Homo sapiens: one gene and its partner. The protein of the gene in region 1 interacts with the protein of each later gene in a pairwise test. Each region holds a gene or a part of one and is shown in the gene's direction. Other genes may lie near its edges.

What was found. The genes of interacting proteins can lie anywhere in the genome.
Region 2: the proteins of KIAA1958 (region 1) and AQP1 interact in binary tests that used the Homo sapiens proteins (3 or more experiments, as listed by UniProt).

The regions. Positions count from the first base shown.
Region 1 is NC_000009.12:112,485,481-112,489,626, forward strand, and holds the start of KIAA1958 (uncharacterized protein KIAA1958), read left to right. Parts: upstream 1-1,346; 5' UTR 1,347-1,638; exon of another isoform or gene 1,639-2,164; intron 2,165-4,146.
Region 2 is NC_000007.14:30,914,853-30,918,352, forward strand, and holds part of AQP1 (aquaporin-1), read left to right. Parts: intron 1-3,500. UniProt on the Homo sapiens protein: Forms a water channel that facilitates the transport of water across cell membranes, playing a crucial role in water homeostasis in various tissues.

The DNA.
Region 1 (4,146 bases):
GGAAGAGTGTTGATAGAGGAAGGTGTTAAGAACATCAACCGGAATCAGCTCTAGAGATGGAGAGGGGTTGGCAGAAGCTACCTAAAAGAGAACATGCTTGATGTGGTAATGAAGTTACCTGCTTGGATTCTGGACGACCCTGGATATTTTCTCCTTTGCTAAGAAGTTAGCTTCTTTCTCTCCCTCAAAAATATTCTTCTCTTCCCTTACCTACTCCAAGGGTACAAGTGACTGGGGTATGCCTGTCACAGATGAGGTGAGGCCAAGATGTGGGCACTACGTAAGGCCTGACAGATATGGTGTAAATGTTATTTATTACCATGATTACTGTTTTGGAGATGGTCAGTGCTGTAAATAGAAAGGGAGTTAAGAGCAGACTCTGAAGCCAGACTGTCCGGAATGAATCCAGGCTCCTCTAGCTACTATCTATGTGATGTTGAAAAAATTTCTTAATTTCTCTGTGCCTCAGTTTCCTTATCATAAAATGGCAATGTTAATAGCACCCACTATGTAGAGTTCTTAGGATTAAATAAATTAATATTCGCTAAGTACTCAGTGCAAACTGTGGGCACACAGCAAGTACTACGAAAGTGTTAGGTAAAATAAAGGTGGACCAAGCCTGGTAGCACCTAGCAAGTCCAGCTTCATCTTTGCTGTGCTGAGTCGTGTAGGTGGTGTTCTTGTGTCTCTGGTTTGCTGGAGGACCTAGTTTTAGTGTATTTTAGGTATCATTAAGCATCCCCGCTCCCTCGATGGGATAGGGGTGTGTGTGTTACAGGTGGTTGTTGGGCACCTTCACGGGGCAGCGGTGACTATGGGCTGTACGTAGTATCTCGGTAGAAAGTGTTAATGCACATCCCTGGGCGGAGAGGTAACTCTACTCAATGCGTTATAAGGGAAATCACACACCTCACGGATGGTGTAGGTTCTGTCTGCTCCTTGCGTTTCAGTGGAGGTGCACAGAGCTCCGGGGGGCATCGGGGACCGCGGGCCCAGGACGTGTAGTAGGGAGCAGTGCTGTACACTTCCTCGGACCATAGCGGGGACGGCGGGTTCCACACCTGTCGGGGCAGTAGGGACTGAGCTCGTGCGCGCGGAGGATGGATTGCTCCAACCTCTCGGTCCAGCGCGCCGGCCGCCGCGTGCGAACGTGTGTGCGGCAGGAGGCTCGATCTACACCTCCTCGGGGCAGCAACGACTGCGAGCTCGGTGCGTGCCGTAGGAGGTGTCGTTACACACTTCCTGTGGGTCTCGCCGACCACGGCGCGTTTCCGGTGCCGGCTGGAGCCCGGGGTCCGAGCCCCCGCCCCGCTCGCCGGCCCCGCCCCGGCCCGCCCGCGCCCCGCCCCCTGCCCGCCCGCCGCGCTCCGAGCCGGGCGCGCGGAGCTCGGGGCGCACGGAGCGGCGCGCGGCGGTCGGCCGAGCCAGGCTGGCGCCCCCGCCCCCCGCCCCGCTCCTCGGTCCGCCGCCCGCCGGGCGCCTTCCCCGCTCCACTTACCTTTGGTGCCCGGCCCTCTGGCCGCTCTCCTCCCGCCCTCGCGCCCCTTCGGCCCGTCCCGTCCAGCCCGGGCTGCCCGGCTCTCGCAGGCCCCCCCGCGCCGACCGCGTTCCTATGGACAGACGCACAGACACCTGCAGGTGGGTGAGAGCCCGCGCGCGGGGCGGGGACGAGTGCGCCGACGCCGCGACCCAGGCGGGGAGCCCCTTTGTGTGGGGGGCGGCCGCGCCGGGGTCGACTCTGCTTCCCCGTCAGCGGCCGCGCGGTGACCCGGCTGAACCTTCCTTTTGTCTCCTCTCGGGGGAGCGAGGCCGGAGCGAGGGCAGGGACCCGGGCGGCCGCTCGTCGGCAGCGCCGGGCTTGGGGGTGCGAGGCGCAGAGACCCCCGGTGGCGGCTCCGGTCCGCCTGCCCCGGGCCGCCCCGCCGCCCGGCAGCTCGGGTCTCAGCGGCGGCTGCAGGCGCAGTGCGTGGGGCTGGCGCCCCCGCTCCTGCTCTTGGGTCTGTCGGAGGTGGGAAGGAGGGCGGGAAGGAGGAGGAAAAGGTCTGTCCTCTTAGTTTCCAAGTCTTGAGATGCTTATGGAGAAAGAGAGGTGGTTCAGGGCTCTGCCCCACTAGTTTTCCTCCTCGGGTGGCTCGCCGAGGTGCGTTTGGGGCGTGTGTGAAGGAACGTGCATGGCTTCGCTCCCTTATTTATTGTTTCTAACGGAGGAGGGCTTTCTCCAAAAGGCTCTTCCGCCCCCCCACCCCCATCTGAGGCTGCGCACAGTGATTTGTGTTTGTTATCAAATATATCGAGAAATGTATTCCCCTGGGTAGGAGGAGGTTGGACTGAACAACGTCAAACCAAAATCAAAGAATGTTTTTGGTTCCTTCAAGTCTTTTTTTTTCTTTAAGGTTTTAGATTGGGACTTTAAAAAAAATGAACGTGGCTGTGATTTTTACAATTATATGTATTTAGTGTGTGTGCGTGTGTGTGTGTGTGTGTGTGTGTGTGTTTTGAAGTTTAGGAGTAAAGTTTTGTTTTTTCCCGAACTCGTTAGGATTCGCAAGACGGAATCCTCTCCCGACGAAATAAACAGCTAACAAGCCAGTCAGGTAGTGACAGCTTCCATGGTGGAGGTTAAATTGGAGTGCAATAAACAATGATCTAGCTTTCCCTTCAGGCTGAAGCCTTTATTTCTGCTGATTTAAGATATGAGATCTTTCCCTACCCATGAGACCATGAATGTCAGAATTGAGTTTCCCCTCTAGGATTGTGCCTTTACTATTTTATTCCACGTATATAACCCAACGATTGGGTTGTGCATGGATATGGATACAGTGTTTTGAAAAATACTGTAGGGTGATGTTTCTGAATTGTCTTATTTGATTAGCTAGCTAAGTTTCTTCATGAACGGTTGCTGTGTATTGTAGATACTCAAATAATAAATGAGGTTGAATAAGCACCCAGAAAATTAATTTTACAGATTCAGATTTTTAATACGCAGGTATGGATTTATGCCTGTATCAATCTCAATCTACTGCTCCGTTCTGGAAACTCTTTTTTGCCCACCCTGTGAGAATTTATATTGACAAAGTTAAGTCTGACAGTTACCCAGGAGATTAAAAAAACGAAGAAGCAGTTTTGGGGGCCATGCATACAATTATATGGACAGTCATATGTAAAAAATAGAGGTTTTCCTAAAAAAACAAAAAGCATTATCATCTAAACTTGAAGGAAAAACGTGGAAAATTATGTATTTAAATTTTCATTAAGGTTTGAAAATTAGTAAACAGTGTACAATTTAATGCACTTTTTTAAAGACAAACTGATTTTTGTCATTATAAAAAGTTTAGTATGCTTAAAATAGTGCTTTTTTCTAGGAGAAAAATTTATCTAGATTCTTGTCCCAGTTAAACAGATTAATATTATTGCATGCCTAATTTTGTAAATGCCTGGAGCGTAGATTTGTACACACATTACTTAAAACCTAGCAGTGATCAAGCCAATCCTTTTTAGTTGATAAAATTTTACTAGTTTCTGCTTTGACTTCCAGTCTGCATTAGGTAAATGAATTTAAATTCTGCACAGAAGCACAGCTCAGTATGTGGCTCTGGTAGGCCCTTGACTAGCGTTCCTTGTCCCTCTCCATTCCTAGTAATAGCCCAAAGAGAAGAGGTATTGAAATTTGATCAGGCTTTATCGTGAATCCAGGAATGGAGTTCTAGACCACTCTCAGAATTTCAGCACTTAGATATACGTACTCTTCCTTAGCTCTTTAAAATATTTAAAAAAGATAAGCTAACGATTGAATTGCTTGTTTATATATTTACAAGGCTGTCAGTGGTAGTGATAAGATTTAACAAAGAGTCACTGTGTAGCTAAGCATCGAGTGTGGCCTGTACTGAGAATTGTTTTGGCAAAGTTGTAGTTGTGCCTGTTTTCTGAGATCATCAATGTAGTCTTTATGTGGGCTGGCTGAAAGATAACACCTAGTTTTGTTTATGTTTTTGTGTTTTTTTTTTTTTGACTGATAGGTAGATAAGAATTTTTTGTTTTTTGTGTAATTAGCAATAATATTTTAGTGTGATCAGAAGCATTCCAGAGAACCTTACATATTTTCAGCTGATTTCCTTTCTGGTAAGTTGGTGTTGAGGAAAGCATATA
Region 2 (3,500 bases), on another chromosome or scaffold:
TTTCTCCTGACTGACTCAGGGCTCAGGATATGCCCTAGAGAGACCGTGGGCCTCCGTCCAGCCTGCAAGGTCCCGGCTAGTTCTAAGAGCCAAATACCAATTTTGGCTAAGGGTGAGAGGCTCTGAGGCTGGGGTGGACACTCTCACCTGTCCCTGTCCTAGCTCAGCCACTAACACCATGTGGCATCACACAACAGACTGGCCTGTGTGGCCCTAGTTCCTGTCTATGAGATAGGGACATAGCAGGGTGTGGCTGGGCTCTGAGAAGTAGGAGATGCTGGTGGACTCAGGATTCCTGGCATTTGCTGGCTTTTTTCATTCTTCTGCTGTCTGGTCTGCTCAGCCGGCTCCCTGCAAGCATGACCAGGGACTGCTGGGTGCTCAATGCAGGGCTGGGTTAGCCCGGCTCCCTCCCGAGAGAAGCCCACAGCCCTAGGTCAAGATAAGCCAGTGCCCAGCTGCCTGTGATATGAAGCAGGAGGCAGATGCGATAAGAGGTGTCAGGGCGGGCCCGGGAACTTTTGAACTTAAGGGGTGGGAGGGCCAGGAAGGCATCAGGGAGGAGGTTTCGTAGGAGCCTGAATGTGGAGACACTGCAGAGGGAAGGGGCAGAGGGACTGTGTGAGCAAGCACAGGCTAGGAGGAGGTGAGGGCCGTGGTACGGGAGTTGTTGGGTATGGTCAGGCTGGGGGTGCATGGGAGGAGGGTGGTGAGGGCTCAGGATTCGGGCCAGGGGCTGCATCCGGGGGAAGGGGTCTGGATTCCCAGAGCCTGTGATTTCAGCCCGCTGGGCTCAGGCAGAGGGCAAAGCTACCCTCTTCGGGGTCTTCTCCCAGCCCTGCTAATTCCAGGCCTGACTGCTCAAGAAGTGTTTCTACCTGCAGCATCAGGGGCCTGACTGAAGCCCTAAGTTCTCCCCTTTATCCCGTTTTTCTGGGCTTCAGTTTCCCCAGTCATAGAGTGAGAGGCCTCTTCATGCCACCAGTTCTCCCGGGGGTGCTGCTGCCTCCTCCAGAGCTCAGGGGAGGGATGGGGAAAGGAAGGCAGAGTTTCCATGTCCCTGCCCAGCCCGTCCTGCCCAGGGAGGGGCTGGGGGCTGGGTGGTGATGCCACATCTGGGACATATAATTACTGTTTCCGCCAGCCCCAGATGAGGGGGAGGGCACAGAGATGGGGAGCTTTGTGGTGGAGACTTCCCTCACCATGGAAAATCCTGACGCTGCTTCCCCTTTAGGGACCTCAGAACAGCCCAGCCGGTCCCAGTGTTGCCCACCCTGATGCTTGGCCCTGACTGGGATTTGCCCTGGGAACTCTGAAGGGGCCATGCTTTGAGAGGGGACACGGCCTCCTGGGATACCTGTCTGAGGGGCTCACCCCCTGCTCACCACTCCCAGGCCACAGCCTCCTGTCACACCTTGCCTTCCCTTCTCCACCCCAGGCAACCTTCTAGCAGCATGAAGTGGCCATTAGCTCACTGCAAGCCAATTCCAGATGGTACCCCCACTTAGTCTAGGGCCCCCACCCAGCAGGGGCCATGGCCCTTACCTTCTGGAAGCACCAATGAGTCTGGAGTCTCCTGAGTGGCTGGGATCTGAGCCCTCACACCGGGAGGTGAAGGCAGGAAAATGCTGTCCGCGAGGCCCTGCAAGTGGCCAGGATCCCCTCAGTCAGGGCTTCCCCATGGGGATGAGAGGGGCTCCTTGCCCACATGGAGTGGTGCCCAGGGGGATCATGAGGGGCTGTCTTCACTCAGCCAGGAGCTACAGTTCTGTGGGGTGGGCAGACTCTGAGGCTGAAATCTCCAACTTAAAAGATATCCGGAAAGGCCGGAAAATGCCCCCGGCCCTTCCAGCAGCTCCTTTCAGTGCCTGCAATCTCGCTGTCAGGGCCCCTTGAAAGGCAGATTTCTACTCAGTGTAAAGAAGGTTGTTGTTGATATTGTTGTTGACACGAAGAAGGGGCTGTCTCTAAGTCAATAAGCTCCCTGCCATTAGGGGTGTGCAAGTAGATGCTTTCTGGTGAGGAGGCTGCTTTGGGGGTGCTAGTCTATGCGGGGGTCCAGTGGGGTGGGTGACAGGTTCTGCAGCATAGGCTTTGTGTCATGCTGAGATCAGCAATTCTGATGGCCTGCGGGGGATCCTGTGCTTAGGTTTCTGGATCTGGGGCTGGAGAGTGACCACCCCGATGTGAGGCAGGAGGCACTTTTGGAGACTGCGGGGGCTCGAATCTGGGCCAAGGCCTCCATTTTACTGATGGGGAAACTGAAGCCCACAGAGGCGTGGAGACTTGTCAAGGTGGCACTGCCTCCTAGCCCTTGATTATTCCTGCTGCTCCAAAGTGTACACACATGGCACAAACACAAACATGCACACACATGTGCTCTTACGTGGAGGACACACACACATGGTACACAAAGCACATTCTCAAGACTGGGTGGTCCCACTCAGACTCTGGGACCCAAGGAGGGTTGGGCGGGGATTCCTCAATGGAGCCTTTTCCTCTCCCTGCCCTGGAGTTAGGAAAAGAAGGAGGGAGGGAGGGAGGAAGCCATTGCTTTGTGTATTGTTTCTTGTCAGGAAGATGAAATGGCTTCTGGGAGCAAATAAAGGCCTTGTTGAGACCTGCTGCTTTCTCACATGGGGGGCTCATTTTTTTCTCTTCTCTTCCCTCTCTAGCTGGTAGTGGCAGCTATGTGGGTGTGTGACACAGGGAGACAGTGAGGCACCCAGAAGTGCCATCAGACATACCAGTGCAAACACACAGCACAGCCTCCAGGACCTCATGTCCTGCAGGGATGCCTGTATGATATAGCTGTTCCCAGGGAGGCCGAGGCACTTGGTCAGTACCTCATCAGTTGATGAAAAAGAGTGTGCATTCTCTAATTCAGGGGTACAGGGTTTTCATATTTTTCTGAAGTCAAGCTTGTTAATTATGGGGTTCAAACCCTCCCTGATCATGTTATTGGTAGTTTTCGGCTGCTTCATTTATTCTGTACATTTCTAATAGAAGATTGTTAACATTTTTCACTCTGGTGGTAGGGTGATCCAGTCCTCCTTGTAATTTTGTCAATTTTCCCCTCATTTATTTTTAGGCTATGTTGTTTGGTGCATACAAGTGGGGGATTTTTGCAGTTCCTTTATAGATTTTTATTTTTTTTTTTGAGACGGAGTCTCACTCTGTCGCCCAGGCTGGAGTGCAGTGGCACCATCTCGGCTCACTGCAAGTTCTGCCTCCCGGGTTTATGCCATTCTCCCACCTCAGCCTCCCGAGTAGCTGGGACCACAGGCCACCACACCCGGCTAATTTTGTTTTTGTATTTTTAGTAGAGACGGGGTTTAACCGTGTTAGCCAGGATGGTCTCGATCTCCTGACCTTGTGATCCACCCGCCTTGGCTTCTCAGAGTGCTGGGATTACAGGCGTGAGCCACCGCGCCTGGCCAGTTCTTTTATAGATTTTTAAAATGTAATTATTGTGTAATAAACCACTTACAATCTAACAA